Regions from separate parts of the Homo sapiens genome. Here region 2 is linked to region 1. Evidence: fine-mapped QTL for protein levels in blood plasma. A gene starts in region 1. The other region holds a variant in brackets. All regions are shown on one strand. Distances are between the middles of the regions.

The links. A credible set is the group of variants that fine-mapping cannot tell apart. PIP is the posterior inclusion probability: the model's chance that the variant is causal. The UK Biobank Pharma Proteomics Project read protein levels with antibody pairs (Olink). The fine-mapping took linkage between variants from a reference panel, not from the people measured, so its PIPs are less certain.
Region 2: its variant is the best candidate, but not a certain one, in a credible set for the plasma level of the CCL11 protein (UK Biobank, PIP 0.51).

Annotation. Positions count from the first base shown.
Region 1 is chr17:34,281,609-34,289,926 of GRCh38, reverse strand. CCL11 (C-C motif chemokine ligand 11) reads right to left here and starts at 4,185. Exons shown (of 3, transcript NM_002986.3): 1 at 4,043-4,185; 2 at 2,720-2,831; 3 at 1,593-2,342. The coding sequence starts at 4,118. The coding sequence ends at 2,237.
Region 2 is chr17:34,183,606-34,191,947 of GRCh38, reverse strand. LINC01989 (long intergenic non-protein coding RNA 1989) reads left to right here and starts at 8,316. Exons shown (of 6, transcript NR_110748.1): 1 at 8,316-8,342. The variant T/C (reference allele first, on the strand shown) is at 5,091.

The DNA.
Region 1 (8,318 bases):
TCCGACTTGGGCTTGTGAGTGTGGAACCCTCTGACAACATTCCCTCCCTCAATGGGTGGAGGTAGTGATGCTTTCCAAGAGGTAGTGCTCTCAGAACAGGAGATCTTGGTGGGTCATTGGTCAGATCCCTTAAAAGATATTAATATACCCCTATTATGGATGGGGTAACTAAAGCCAAAAGTAACACAGTGACAGAGACCAGTTCTCTGTCTGTGATGAAACTGAGGTCATCTGCCTCCTAGATCAGTGCCCTTCCTAATGTCTCATTCTGTTCTTTATATTGCCTTGTGCCATTGCCACCACACAGTCCAAGGGGGACAGCCTTATGAATGGTGCCTCTGGGAGCTTTGCATGCAGCGACCCTGCTGGGCATGCATGACACAGTAGGCCATTGGCCCTCCAGATCAATGGCCTTAGACCATGCAGAGTTATACCAGCAGGGCACCTGTGACCCTTTTCTACCCTTGGGGACATAGTTGGTCTCTGCGTTCAGGTACATAGGTAATGTGACCAATGGAAACGCAAGCTGATTTTGTATGCTGAAAGGGAATCCTGATTTAAGTTGCTTATACAGGAAGATGAGGTCCTGTCCATTTGATTGAAAGCTCTCAAGCTAGTAAAGTTAAGGTGTGAGTAAACAGTGACAGAGAGAAATTAATTTTCTGGGTCTAAGAAGCTAACCTTTAATTGCAGCTTTGGCATTTAGAAAGTTTCCATGTCATTGGTTCTACTTCTTCAACCACAACATTTGGCATTCCACCCTGCCTCAGCCATTCTTCCAATTATCTTCTCCCCTCCCAACTACCAATGCCCCAGTTCCATATCTTCCATACACTGCAATAGTGAGCTAAGTGCTTCTCCCTTCTCCTCCCAATTCAGCCCATGGCCACCTGGCTGCCCTTCCTGAAGCCCCTCATAGTGTGGTCATGGCACTTCTCTCCACTGAATCAAAACTTGCAATGCATTCTATTCCTAGAGTGACCACATGCTCCAGTTTGCTTAGGACAGTGTTAATTTATATCCGTTGTTCCAGAATAATTATGAATAATACCACTTTTCTGCTCTCAAAAGCATCCTAACTGGGCTGGGAAGAACCATATGTTCACCTTACATGGAGCACAAACTCCCCACCTAGACAGCCTGGTCTCAAACTTCTTTCCAAATTTCCCCACCATTTCACACATACTCCAACACTGACATCTTTTGATGGGCTCCCACCCAACTGGGTAAATGCAGCATGATCATTCCTACTTCTTGGATTTTGCCCAAGCAACACCCCTTCTCCTCTACCTAGACTGAAATACCTCCAGCAGAGCCTCTCCACTTTGTGCATGCACAAGACCCACTTTAAGCTCCACCACACCTGTAAAACCTGCACCTAAACCTCTGGTCAAAGGTCACCTAGCCTTCCTCTGATTTCCAGTGTCTGTCATGTCTGCCTAGTCTGGGTTGGAAGACCGAGGAGCAGGGTCGGGTAGAGGGAGATACCACAGGGCTGTTAAAATAGGTCCCAGGAGAGGCAAGTATGAGGTGGGGAGGAAAGGAATGGTGGCAAAGCTCCAGATATTTTCGTGGCTGAAGTTTGGGGTCTGGGAAATACTGTTGAAAATGGGAATAGAGGGCTGGAATGGGTTTGTCAGTTTCACCCTGCATTTCAATGAAGACCAGCTAAGCCAAAAACTCATTTCCCAGGGACATAGTTCCCACCCCCTTAACCAAGCCCCTCTTGGCCACAGCCATCTTTGTCCCCCTCAGCTCAGTGTGGATTTCCCACAAAAAAATTACAACTAGTGACTATAATAAAATATGCACATACTTTATGTATTCCTAAAACAACATTTACTTCCATTTAATGAGTCACACTTTGGGTTCACAAGAACAATGACATTTTCATACTGATCATCTTTGCCAGGACCTTTACAAGATTCCAGGGAGGAAGAGAGGAGAGGGGGAACATTGCCCACACGTGACAGGGGATCGAATTGGGGCTCCCAGGGGGTAAAGAATCTGCACAAAGCTTTACAGTTTAAAAATAACTGATATTCATGGAGGATAAGTTTTAAAGCCTCAATAAATTAAATGCAATACGTTTTTTTTTTAAAAAAAAAAATATATATATATAATAAAACCCATGCCCTTTGGACTGATAATGAGGTTACCTCAGAATGCATTGTAAGAAGGGAAAACAAATTAGGCAACACTCAGGCTCTGGTTTGGTTTCAAAAATGGTGATTATTTATGGCTTTGGAGTTGGAGATTTTTGGTCCAGATACTTCATGGAATCCTGCACCCACTTCTTCTTGGGGTCGGCACAGATATCCTTGGCCAGTTTGGTCTTGAAGCTGTGGGAGATACAGGATGCAATTGGAAGGATTGTTTTTGAAAATTCTGCCCATTTGACCCTAAATATTTAAGGACCATCTGCCCCTGGACAAAGGGTTGCTACGGAGAGGAGGAAGGATGAGACTCTTGGGTTAGTTGCTGCTCTTAAAGGCCCAGTAAAACCATCTTTGCTCTTGACTTGAAGAAATTGATATGACTACAGCAATCTCCCAGGCAGGGAGCTGGGAGTGAACACTCACTTGTGAAAATTAATGAATTGGACCATAGAGGTCAAACTATCAGAGTCTATGACTCCCAGCAACTGTGACACAGTTCTTGACTCTGTGCCCTAGACATTATTTTTTTGTCTAGGGGAGGGTGAACTTTATTTACTTACATCACAGCTTTCTGGGGACATTTGCCACTGGTGATTCTCCTGTAGCTCTCTAGTCGCTGAAGGGGTATCTTCCTATTGGCCAGGTTAAAGCAGCAGGTGGTTGGGACAGAAGCTGAATTTTGGGGAAAAAAAATGAACAGAGAAAAAAATGAGCCACATGATGATACATAGACATTTCCAAGCATGACTTTGTAAAGGAAGTTAGGAGAAAGCAAGGAATTGCGAGAGGTGGAGGGAGAATCCCTCTGCTCTGAAGTCTTATGTGTCTGGAGGATGCTGTCCTGTGTCTTCAGCATCCTCCCCTGTGCACTGAGGACTCATCATTACTGTAGAGTGTATGGACAAAGCTTGGTCAATGTGACAAATGCTAGCTCTGTCATTATAAAGACCTACGTGGCCATGTGATGGTCATGGTAATTTTCACCAAATATTCTCCATCCTCTGTTTTGAGACACAAGGTAGACTTGCATTTCTTGGCCACTTTTGTTTGGTTGGAGGCATTAATTAGTTTTGATCAATAAAGAAGGAGACAAAGTGATGGGTGTCATTTTTGAGCCACAGTGCATTGCCTATGCAAGACTCCTGAGAGCTTTCTTCTGCTTTATCACAGTATCCATCAATGTTCCCCCACATGGGCAACTTCTCCATCAGTCTAGAATCCTGAGTATAAAATGCAGAAGCCTGAGCCCATACATTATAGATATTTAGTACAAGTGAGAAAGTAACTTTTGTTAATTTAGTTAATTCTGTTAAGTCATTGATAATTTAGAACTGTTTGTTACCATGCTATGCACTGGCTCAGTGGGACCGATACACTCAGTAAATTTGTCACCAGAGTATGGGAAAATGAGTTATGGAACAAATCTCCTAGATAACTTTCCCAAAGAGTGTCAAAATAAGTCACCTCAAGAGATCCCCCTGGGACCTCGTTCTTCTCTTAGCCACTGTCTCTGAAAGCTGTCCTGGAGTCGAATTAACATACTGAGCTTCTAATCAACAGATTTTCCTTCTCTCCCACTGCCAAAAATGCCCACCATGCCCACAGTAAGACAGAGCCATTCCCCATTCCCAAACACTGTAAGGATAGCTGGGTATGGATGCACCCAGCAACCCTCTTGAATGTGGGGAAAAGACTCGGGAGCTTTCTAGTTCTGGCTCTTCCAGTGACTGGATGTGAGGTTGAGGCATTTCTTGTCCACCCACAAAACCTGTTTCCCTATTTTTCAAATGGAGAATTTGCAGTGAGTCTGTAAAGATTCTTGCTGACCTAGTAGCTCTGGAGGTGGTTACCTTACCTTTCCTGTAAGGAGTTGGGGGGCTTACCTGGCCCAGCGAGCCCCTGGGGGCTGAAGGCAGCTGCTATGAGCAGCAGCCACAGAAGTGCTGCGGAGACCTTCATGTTGGAGGCTGAAGGTGTGAGCTTTGGCGTGAGAGGTGGTGGTTTCTGGGTTGGTCTCAGCCTCTCTGCTCCTCTGGCCCATCTGCCTGCCTTTTATAGGGAGCAGACAGTGTGGGAGATTCCAGGGAAGCCTTTGCCCATGCGGGGGTCACGATGAAGGGATTCCTGATTGCTGACCAGATTCCAGATCCTAGGAAGTCAAGCAGAACAGAAGAGAGGCAAGCTAGTAGGAGGGACTTGGTACATTTTTTAATCCATCTGGATCTTGCCTTGGAAAAGGAGGGGAATATGTGGTTATGAAATGAAGTTAAACATCTGTAGTGGGGGAAGAGAGCAAGAAAACCAAGGCCCTAGGGGATGAGTTGAAATGAAACACCTGTAGTTGGGGAAAGGAGCAAGGAAACCAAAGGCCTGGGGGATGAGTCGATCTAAGAACCTTCCTTGATTCCTGTGTTCACATGGTGGTCTTGAGGATTTTGGAGACCAGGAAGGAGCCCCAAAACTTCCATTAGGCTCCCACCCAGATGCAGAGAGAGCTCAGCAGCCCTGCACATAGTTGCATCTCTGAACCAGGAAGGACAACACACCACAGCTTTGCTGCTGTGTTTCAATGTAATGATCACAGAATCTTAGTCCCTGAAATTTTAGCATGATAGGACATCAGAACTGGATAGTTTCTATTAATCTTGACTTCTGAGGCACTTTAAAACCATTTGCTTAGCTGCTAAAGCCCTTTTCCAAATGGAATTAAAACAAACCCCAACTCATCAAATACACTGTAGTGAAGGGGATTTGTTTGAAATAGAATAGGCAGCCTCTCGTGCCCTTATTCCCCAGGGAACACATTTAGGGAACACATTTGGAAAATCAATCATCTAGTTCCCCCCTCACTCTCTGAGCACACATTGCAGACAAGGTATCTGATGGCTAAAAATATCAAAGAGAGAGGCAACACAAGAACCTATACATATCCCTTTGTTCATAACACTAGGCACCCTAGTTGGAGAGGGTATAAGGGAGGCAAAGTCTTTAATGGAGTCACTGCAGCGGATTACAGCATTGAATACTGGTGTGGAGGTACTGCAAACCTGTTTCCTGTTTTTTCCTGCACACTCTCATATCAAATTGATTGATTGGTACAGTAGCACAAACAAGAATGTTAAAGATTCTGAGGAGTTGACTTGCGTTAGTTAAATACTGTGTTGTGGTTGACTGGTGATGTCTGTCATGGGCACAGGATTAGAGACAGCTCTTGCTGTCCTGCAAAGTCTCTAAGTGCCCATCTAGGATAATTGGTCTATAATTACCTAAAAAGTTAACTATAATTACCAAATAGAGGCCAAAAATGTGGAGTCTTCCCTGTTCTTTCCTGCTCCATTCCTGGTGGGTTAGTCTAATGTAGAACCTGAATTCAGGATATCTGCATTTGGATGATGGCTCTGTGACTGACTAGCTGTGATACCATGGACAACTTACTTAACCACTCTCTGCTAGGGTAAGAGCAGGATACTAATCATGTGTACTTTAGGGAATTGTCGTGTGAATTAAATGAGTTCATGTATCTAAACTGCTTAGAAGAATGACTAAATCACTGTAGGTACTCAGTGAGTAGAAGTTACTGTTTTTTATTATTAGGAAATAGGGCCGGGTACAGTGGCTCACACTTGTAATCCCAGCACTTTGGGAGACTGAGGCAGGCAGATCACTTGAGGTCAGGAGTTCAAGACCAGCCTGGCCAACATGGTGAAAACCTGTCTTTACTAAAAATACAAAAAATTAGCCAGCCATGGTGGATGGTGTTTGTAGTCTCAGCTACTCAGGAAGCTGAGGCATGAGAATTGCTTGAACACAGGAGACAAAGGTTGCAATGGGCAGAGATCATGCCACTGCACTCCAACCTGGGCAACAGAGTGAGACTGTGTCTCAAAAAAAAAAAAAAAAGAAGGGCAGATTGGGAATGCTGGAAAGACCTCAGAGTCTGGATATTTCTCCAAATATTCTTCCAAGTTTTCCCACTGCTTCCAAGTAAAGATATGCTACCGCAGGGATGGTTTCCAAGAATGCCTGAGTTGCACATGTGGCAGATACGAAGTTTTAAAAAATTCTCGGCAGAATAAATTTGGAATATTATTGACCTCAGAGGTGTTTGTCTGACGTGGTTTAATGATTGTTTCTGTAGTAAGAATAATTTCATAACTCTGGCGGGAATTTAAAGGAATTATCAGCAAGCGATTATTCATTTTTGTGTTTTCCTTGAAAAATGGCTTTGGAGTTAATGGGCTTTGGATTTACTCTACACCTGAAAAACCTCAGTGGCTCAGTGGAAATAAATAAAATCAATCTTTAGATATCCAAGCTCTGCAGCTGTTTCATCCAGCTCACTGGCCATCCCTAGCAAGCAGGGGCAGCTTCAAGGGCTTTTTCTCTTTCTTTCTTGGAGGCTTTCTTTTCAGCAATGAAGTAGAGTAGACCAATTTCTTGCCTGTGATTTGGTGCCTGATGAATGAGGGGCCTTGATCAGGAATGATCCTGAGTGATGGGCAGGAAATGGATCCCCCCTTGTGAAAACAAAATATTGACTTCTAAAGAGTTTTTTTTCTTTTTTTTAATTGGAAAAGGTATCTTTTATTTTTATTATTATTCTTTAAGTTCTGAGATACATGTGCAGAGCGTGCAGGTTTGTTACATAGGTATACATGTGCCATGGTGGTTTGCTGCACCCATCAACTCGTCATCTACATTAGGTATTTGTCCTAATGCTCTCCCTCCCCTTGCCTGCCATCCACCGACAGGCCCCAGTGTGTGATGTTCCCCTCCCTGTTTCCATGTGTACTCATTGTTCAACTCCCACTTACGAGTGAGAGCATGCAGTGTTTGGTTTTCTGTTCCTGTGTTAGTTTGCTGAGAGTGATGGCTTCCAGCTTCATCCACGTCCCTGCAACGGACATGAACTCATTCCTTTTTATGGCTGCATAGTATTCCATGGTGTATATATGCCACGTTTTCTTTATCCAGTCTATTATTGATGGGCATTTGGGTTGGTTGAAGTCTTTGCTATTGCAAATAGTGCTGCAGTAAACATAACGTGTACATGTTTCTTTACAATAGAATGATTTATAATCCTTATATACCCGGTAATGGGATTGTTGGGTCAAATGGTATTTCTGATTCTAGATCCTTGAGGAATCACCACACTGTCTTCCACAACGGTTGAACTAATTTATACTCCTCCCACCAACAGTGTAAAAGTGTTCCTATTTCTCTACATCCTTTCCAGCATCTGTTGTTTCCTGACTTTTTAATGATTGACATTCTAACTGGCATGTGATGGTATCTCATTGTGGTTATGATTTGCATTTCTCTAATGACCAGTGATGATGAGCTTTTTTTCATATGTTTGTTGATCACATAAATGTCTTCTTTTGAGAAGTGTCTGTTCATATCCTTCACTCACTTTTTGATGGGATTTTTTTTTCTTGTAAATGTTTTTAAGGTCCTTGTAGATTCTGGATATTAGCCCTTTGTTGGGTGGATAGATTGCAAAAATTTTGTCCCATTCTGTAGGTTGCCTGTTCACTCTGACGATAGTTTCTTTTGCTGTGAAGAAGCTCTTTAGTTTAATTAGATCCCGCTTGTCAATTTTGGCTTTTGTTGCCATTGCTTTTGGTGTTTTAGTCATGAAGACTTTGCTCATGCTTATCTCCTGAATGGTATTGCCTGGGTTTTCTTCTAGGGTTTTTATGGTTTTATGTCTTGCCTTTAAGTCTTTAATCCATCTTGAGTTAATTTTTGTATAAGGTGTAAGGAAGGGGTCCAGTTTCAGTTTTCTGTATATGGCTAGCCAGTTTTCCCAACACTATTTATTAAATAGGGAGCCCTTTCCGCATTGCTTGTTCTTGTCAGATTTGTCAAAGATCACATGGTTGTAGATTTGTGGTGTTATTTCTGAGGCTCTGTTCTGTTCCATTGGTCTATATGTCTGTTTTGGTACCAGTACCTTGCTGTTTTTGTTATTGTAGGCTTGTTGCATAGTTTGAAGTCAGGTAGCATGATGCCTCCAGCTTTGATCTTTTTGCTTAGGAATGTCTTGGCTATATGGGGTCTTTTTTGGTTTCATATGAAATTTAAAGTAGTTTTTTCTAATTCTGCAAAGAAAGTCAATGGTAGCTTGATGGGAATAGCACTGAATCTATAAATTAC
Region 2 (8,342 bases), 98 kb after region 1:
GTTCAATCTATTCCTGGGAGTAGAATTACTGGGTCACAGAGTATGTATATATTCTTTATAGCAGATACTCACAGATAGCTTTCCAGAGTGGTTGTAGTAATTTACAATCCCATTAGCAGTATTTAAGATGTCCAGTTGCCTACACCCTTACCCACACTTAGTACTTTCTGTCTTATTTATTTAGCTATTCTAGTGTGAGTGATACTGAGGTTTGAATTTCCATTTTCATGATGACTCATCAGGCCATACACATTTTTGTAGCTTTATTGGTCATTTTTATATCTATGTAACTGTATCTTCAAGTTTTTTGCCTTCTTTTTATTGAGTTGCTTTAAAAAAAAACTGACTACTAGGAGATCTTCATATAGTTGGGATTTGTGTTCATTGTTAGATATGTATGTTGTAAATATCATCTTTTACTCTTTGGGTTGCCTTTTCACTCTTTTGTGTCCTTTGATGACACCATTAACGTTTTAATACAATCTAATACATTACTTTTTTCTCTTACGGTTGCATTTTTGGTAACATGTTTAAGAAATCTTTGTCGTCTCCAATATCATAATCATGTTTTCTTATATAAGCTTAATGTTTCTTATCTTCAGATTTAGATGTGCAATCCACTTGCAATTGATTTTTTTAATTATAGTTTAAGTTCTAGGGTACATGTGCACAACGTGCAGGTTTGTTACATATGTATACATGTGCCATGCTGGTGTGCTGCACCCATTAACTCGTCATTTACATTAGGTATATCTCCTAATGCTATCAATTGATTTTTGTGTATGATGTGAGGTAGAAGGATAAAATATATCCTTTCATATGGGTATCCAACTGACCCAGAACCATTGATTAAGATGCCTGTCTTTTCTCCACTGCCTAAGAGATGCACACTGTATGAATGAATATTACACAGCAATGAGCATGAATGATTTAAAACTATATTTGACGATATGGATGAATCTCACTAACAAGGTTGAATGGAGGAAGACACATACAAAAGGGCAGCAAATATGATTTTTTTGTATGTCACAAATCAGGCAGCCATGTATGTGGAAGACTGTAACCACTGTATTTTTTTTTTTTTTTTTGAGACAGAGTCTCACTCTGTCACCCAGGATGGAGTGCAGTGGTGCAGTCACAGCTCACTGCAGCCTCAACCTCCTGGGCTCAAGCAATTCTCCCACTTCAGCCTCTGGAGTAGCTGGGACTACAGGCACATGCCACCACGCCTGAGCTAATTGTTGTGTTTTTTTTGTTTGTTTTTGTTTTTGTTTTGTAGATATAGAACCTTGACATGTTTCTCAGGCTGGTCTGAAACTCCTGGGGCTCAAGCGATCCACCTGCCTCCACCTCTCAAAGTGCTGAGATTACAGGTATGGGCCTCCATGCCCAGTCTCTATTCTATCTCATTTATCAATTTAACTATTCTTGTGCAAATACCAAAAATGTCTTAATTACTAAAACTTTAAAATAGATCTTACTCACTGGTAATATAAGCCCTGTAGCTTTATTCTTCTGCAAGGTTGCCTTGGCTATTCCTGGGTCTTTGGATTTTTATATAAATTTTAGTATAAGATTATCAATTACCACACAAATACCTGCTGTGATTTTTTATTGAGATTGTGCTCGTCTGTTTTTGATCTTCCCAATTAACTTCATTCTGTCAAGAATTAATAAAAAAATCCCCTTGGATTTTTGATTCAGATTTTATTAATTTCATAATTTAATAAGATTTTATTAATTTCATAATTAATTTCATAATTGTCATATATTGAATTATTTTTTATTATTTCATGACTGTGGACATTGATTTCTTCACCAGATCATCAGAAACTGTTGGAGAAGTTCTTGATCTATAATTCTTTTGTTCTCTGCATAATTTTATGGAATCTGTGGTCAAATAGCATTTAATATGTGTTTCCTGGATATACCTCATAAACTCTTGCAAAATGATCTTATCAAATACTTTTCTCGAATATTCTGGTGTGGGTGCTCCTTGGCTCTTCTCTTCATTCAAGTATTTATTTGAGTATTTATTAATTCACCCAGGAGAGCCACTTGCATAGTCTAGTCTTAGGTATTGATACATCTGTTAAATATTTAGGTACCTTCCTTTTCTTTAGAAAGCTTTCACTCCAATAAAGACAATGAATGCAAAACCAACTATCTAAAATATTGTCTGTTAAGTGCTAGAGATTTAGAGCTATGGGAAGGCCTAACTCTAGCTGAGAACCCACCGTGAGGTTGATAATTTTAGTGAAGTTGGAAGTTGAGCTACGTCTTGACACATGAGCAGGCATAGAGTCCACGACTCGGAGAGAAAATAAGGAGCATTCTGGGTGAGAAGAAAAAAGACATGAAAGCATGAAAATTCATTCATCTCTGAGGAATATGGATATAAGTTCAGTAAAGCTGAGAAATAACAGGCTGGAATGAGAGACAGGTGAAGCTGAACATATTTAGGTAAAGGAGGTAAAGGTCGGATTATGAATGAGTTTTTTTTTTTTTTTTTTGAGACGGAATCTCGCTGTCACCAGGCTGGAGTGCAGTGGTGTGATCTTGGCTCACTGCAACCTCCACCTCCTGGGTTCAAGCGATTCTCCTGCCTCAGCCTCCAGAGTAGCTGAGACTACAGGCACGCGCCACCACACCTGGTTAATTTGTGTATTTTTAGTAGACACGGGGCTTCACCGTGTTGGCCAGGATGGTCTCGATCTCTTGGCCTCGTGATCTGCCCATCTCGGCCTCCCAAAGTCCTAGGATTACAGGCATGAGCCACCGTGCCCAGCCCATAAATGGCTTTTTAATATGAGCTGGTGATTTTTTTTTTTTAACTTTACTATTCAAAGTGATTAATTTAAGAGAGTGTCGGCCGGGCACGGTGGCTCACGCCTGTAATTGTAGCACTTTGGGAGGCCAAGGAGGGCAGATCATGAGGTCAGGAGATCGAGACTTTCATGCGCGTCTGTGTGAAGAGACCACCAAACAGGCTTTGTGTGAGCAACATGGCTGTTTATTTCACCTGGGTGCAGGTGGGCTGAGTCAGCGAAGGGAGATAGGGGTGGGGCCGTTTTATAGGATTTGGGAAGGTAATGGAAAATTACAGTCAAAGGGGGTTGTTCTCTGGTGGGCAGGGGCAGGGGTCACAAGGTGCTCAGTGGGGGAGCTTCTGAGCCAGGAGTAGGAAATTCACAGGGTTAATCACTCAGTTAAGGTGGGGCAGGAACAAATCACAATGGTGGAATGTCATCAGTTAAGGCGGGGCAGGGCCTTTCCACTTCTTTTGTGATTCTTCAGTTACTTCAGGCCATCTGGGTGTATATGTGCAAGTCACAGGGGATGCGTTGGCTTGGCTTGGGCTCAGAGGCCTGACATTCCTGCCTTCTTATATTAATAAGAAAAATAAAACAAAATACTGTTGAAGTGTTGGGGCGGCGAAAATTTTTGGGGGTGGTATGGAGAGAGAATGGGCGATGTTTCTCAGGGCTGCTTCAAGCGGGATTAGGGGCGGCGTGGGAACCTAGAGTGGGAGAGATTAAGCTGAAGGGAGGTCTTGTGGTAAGGGGTGATATTTTGGGGTTGTTAGAAGAAACATTTGTCGTACAGAATGATTGGTGATGGCCTGGATACGGTTTTGTATGAATTGAAAAACTAAATGGAATAAGAGAAGGAGAAAAACAGGTATAAAAGGTCTAAGAATTGGGAGGACCTAGGACATCTGATTAGAGAGTGCCTAAGGAGATTCAGCATAGTCCTGCCAGCAAAGATTATTTATTTACTTCAAGAGTTTAGAGTGGCAGTTTGGGGATAGCAGCAGGAGATATCTGTGATGGCTTGGAGAAACAGTGTAAACCAGCAGTATAAACAAGAGCAGGGCATGTATGAGTAGTTGAGAATGGTGAATAGGAGTATGACTAGACAAAAGATAGTAGGGATGACAAGTTTTTTTGGGGGCACAGTCTAAGTTGGTCTGGTGTCAAATGAGACTGGGGCCTAATAAAAAGGAGCGTCTATACAGGAGCTTAAATGGGCTCCTGTACACCTTGTAGCATTCTGAGGACAAGCCTGAATTCTGAGAAGAGAAAGTGGTAAAAGTATTGTCCAGTCCTTTTTAAGTTGTTGGCTGAGCTTGGTGAGATGTGTTTTTAAAAGACCCTTTAGTCCGTTCTACTTTTCTTGAGGACCGTAAGGGATATAAAGGTTTCACTGAATACTAAGAGCCTGAAAAACTGCTTGGCTGATTTGACTAATAAAGGCTGGTCTGTTATCAGACTGTATAGAGATGGGAAGGCCAAACTGAGGAATTATGTCTGACAGAAGGGAAGAAATTACTGTGGTGGCCTTCTCAGACCCTGTAGGAAAGGCCTTTACTTATTCAGTGAAAGTGTCTATTTAGACTAAGAGGTCTAATAGTTTAGTTTCCTGACTCGGGACATGTTGAGTAAAGCTAATTTGCCAGTCCTGGGTGGGGGCAAATCCTCGAGCTTGATGTGTAGGGCAGGGAGGGGGCGTGAATAATCCCTGAGGAGGAGTAGAATAGCAAATGGAACACTGAGAAGTTATTTCCTTGAGGATAGATTTCCACGACGGAAAGGAAATGAGAGGTTCTGAGAGGCGGGCTAGTGGCTTGTACTATAGCATAGCCTGCCTTTGCTGGTGTGTGGCGATTAGGCCTGGTGGAACTGCCATCAATAAATCAAGCGTGATCAGGGTGAGGAATAGGAAAGAAGGAAATACGGGGAAATGGGGTGAATATCAGGTGGATCAGAGAGATACAGTCATGGGGATCAGGTGTGGTATCAAGAATAATGTGGGAGGCCAGATTGAAGTCTGGGCCAGGAACAATGGTAATTGTGGGACTTAAAGAGTGAGTACAGCTGAAGGAGCCAGGGAGCAGAAAGTATATGCGTCAGGTATGAGGAAGAAAATAGATTTTGGAAGTTATGAGAAATGTAGAGAGTGAGTTGAGCATAGTTTTTGATTTTTAGGGCCTCTAACAGTATTAAAGCAGTGGCAGCTGCTGCACGCAGACATGAGGGCTAGGCTAAAACAGTAAGGTCAAGTTGTTTGGACAGAAAGGCTACACGGTG[T/C]GGTCCTGGCTCTTGTGTAAGAATTCTGACCGCACTAACCATGCCTAGGAAGGAAAGGAGTTGTTCTTTTGTAAGGGATTGAGGTTTGGGAGATTAATCAGACACGATCAGCAGGGAGAGCACATGTGTTTTTGTGAGAATTATGCCGAGATAGGTAACAGATGAGGATGAAATTTGGGCTTGACTGAAGTAATGGGGGCTGTCTGTGAAGCCTTGCGGCAGTACAGCCCAGGTAATTTGCTGAGCCTAATGGGTGTCAGGGTCAGTCTAAGTGAAGGCAAAGAGAGGCTGGGATGAAGGGTGCAAAGGAATAGTAAAGAAAGCATGTTTGAGATCCAGAACAGAATAATGGGTAGTAGAGGGAGGTATTGAGGATAGGAGAGTATATGGGTTTGGCACCATGGAGTGGATAGGCAAAACAATTTGGTTGATAAGGCGCAGATTCTGAACTAACTTGTAAGCCTTGTCTGGTTTTAGGACAGGTAAAATGGGGGAATGGTAAGGAGAGTTTATAGGTTTTAGAAGCCCATGCTGTAGCAGGCGAGTGATAACAGGCTTTAATCCTTTTAAAGCGTGCTGAGGGATTGGATATTGGCGTTGAGTGGGGTAAGGGTGATTAGGTTTTAATGGGATGGTAATGGGCATGTGATCAGTTGCCAGGGAAGGAGTAGAGATGTCCCATACTTGTGGGTTAAGGTAGGGGGATATGAGAGGAAGACGCGAAGGAGGCTTTGGGTTGGGGAGAAGGACGGCAATGAGATGTGGCTGTAGTCCAGGAATCGTCAGGGAAGCAGATAATTTAGTTAAACTGTCTCGGCCTAATAAGGGAACTGGGCAGGTGGGGACAACTAAAAAGGAGTGCTTAAAGGAGTATTGCCTAAGTTGGCACTAGAGTTGGGGAGTTTTAAGAGGTTTAGAAGCCTGGCTGTCAATACCCACAACAGTTATGGAGGCAAGGGAAACAGGCCCTTGAAAAGAAGGTAATGTGGAGTGGGTAGCCTCCGTATTGATTAAGAAGGGGACGGGTTTACCTTCCACTGTGAGAGTTACCCGAAGCTCGGCGTCTGTGATGGTCTAGGGGGCTTCCGAGGTGATTGGGCAGTGTCAGTCTTCAGCCGCTAAGCCAAGAAGATCTGGGAAGGAGTCAGTCAGAGAGCCTTGGGCCAGAGTTCCAGGGGCTCTGGGAGTGGCTGCCAGGTGAGTTGAACAGTCTGATTTTCAGTGGGGTCCCACACAGATGGGACGCGGCTTAGGAGGAATCCCAGGCTGCGGGCATTCCTTGGCCCAGTGGCCAGATTTCCCGCACATGTAGCAAGCTCCTGGGGGAGGAGGTTCTGGAGGAATGCCTGGCTGCTGCGGTTCAGGCGTTTGGAAGTTCTTGTGTGCTGGAGATGTGGCTGGGGTTTGTCTCACAGTGGAGGCAAGGAATTGTAACTTTTTTCTGTTATTGTACACCTTGAAGGTGAGGTTAATTAAGTCCTGTTGTGGGGTTTGAGGGCCAGATTCCAATTTTTGGAGTTTTATTTAATGTCGGGAGCAGATTTGGGTAATAAAATGTATATTGAGAATAAGATGGCCTTTTGACCTTTTAGGGTCTAGGGCTGTAAAGCGTCTCAGCGTTGCTGCCAAACGAGCAATGAACTGGGCTGGATTTTTATATTTGATGAAAAAGCCTAAACGCTATCTGATTTGGGATAAAGAAAAAGGAGCATTAACCTTGACTATGCCTTTGGCTCCAGCCACCTTTTTAAGAGTAAATTGCTGGGCAGGTGGGGGAGGGCTAGTCACAGAACGAAACTGTAAGCCGGACCAGGTGTGAGGAGGGGAGGTGATAAAAAGATTATAGGGTGGAGGAGCAGAGGCTGAGGAAGAATTGGGACCTAGCTCGGCCTGGCGAGGAGCAGCCTGGGGAGGAAGGGAGAGGTCAGATGGGTCTGTAAAAAAGGAAGATTAGAAAGACTCAGCTATGCTTGGGGTTGGTACTGAGGGGACAGGTGGGAGGGAAAGAAGGAAGATTTGGGACGAGTTGCACTGGGCACAGAGACTAGGAAGGGACTGATGTGTAAAAGAATGCCTGGACGTCAGGCACCTCAGACCGTTTGCCTATTTTACGACAGGAATTATTTGGATTTTGCAGGATGGAAAAATTCAAAGTGCCATTTTCTGGCTATTTGGAACTATTGACGAGTTTGTATTGGGGTCAAGCGGCATTGCAGAAGAAAATAAGGCATTTAGGTTTTAGGCCAGGTGTGAGTTGAAGAGGTTTTAAGTTTTTGAGAACACAGGCCAAGGGAGTAGAAGGAGGAATGGAGGGTGGAAGGTTGCCTATAGTGAAGGAAGCAAGCCTAGAGAAAAGAGAGAGTAGAGAAACGGAGGGAAGGGGTTCGGGGGTTCTTACCTTCCAGAAAAGTGGGAAAAGGGGTTGGGGCGCAGAGATAAGAGGTCGGGGCATGGAAATAAGGGATGGGACTCAGAAATAAGGGGTCGGGGCATGGAAATAAGGGGTCGGGGCACAGAAATAAGCGGTCGGGGCACAGAGATACGAGGTTGGGGTGCAGAAATAAGTGATTGGGGATTCTTGCCCCCTAGAAAAGCAGGACTTGCCACTAAGGGTGAAAGAGAAGGGGTTGAGGGGTACTTGCCCCTGCCCCAGGAAAGTGGGACTTGCCGCTAAGGGTGAAGGAGAAGGGGTTGAGGGGTACTTGCCCCTGCCCCAGGAAAGCAGAAAAGGGGTAGAGACAAGGAGAGAAGGGGTTGAAGTACTTGCCCCTTCCCCAGAAAAGCGGGACTTGCCGCTAAGGGTGAAGGACCAAGGCAGGCATCCCTGCGTGGTCTGACACCCTTGAAACGTGGGTGTATAATCAGAGAGGTGTCCCTGCAGTTATTAAACACCAAGGGAAGGCTGCCTTCCCAGTCCGTGACCGGCACTGGAGTTTTGGGTCCACGGATAAAACATGTCTCCTTTGTCTCTCCCAGAAAATGAAAGGAATTGAAATTAAGACAAGGGAGAGATTGAAGAGTGGAAAGGAGAAAGTGGTTGAGGAACAGTGAGAGAAGTTGGAGAAGAAAGTAAGAAGAGGCCGCTTACCTGATTTAAAATTGGTGAGATGTTCCTTGGGCTGGTGGGTCTGAGGACCTGAGGTCGTAGGTGGATCTTTCTCACGGAGCAAAGAACAGGAGGACAGGGGATTGATCTCCCAAGGGAGGTCCCCCGATCCGAGTCACGGCACCAAATTTCATACGCGTCCGTGT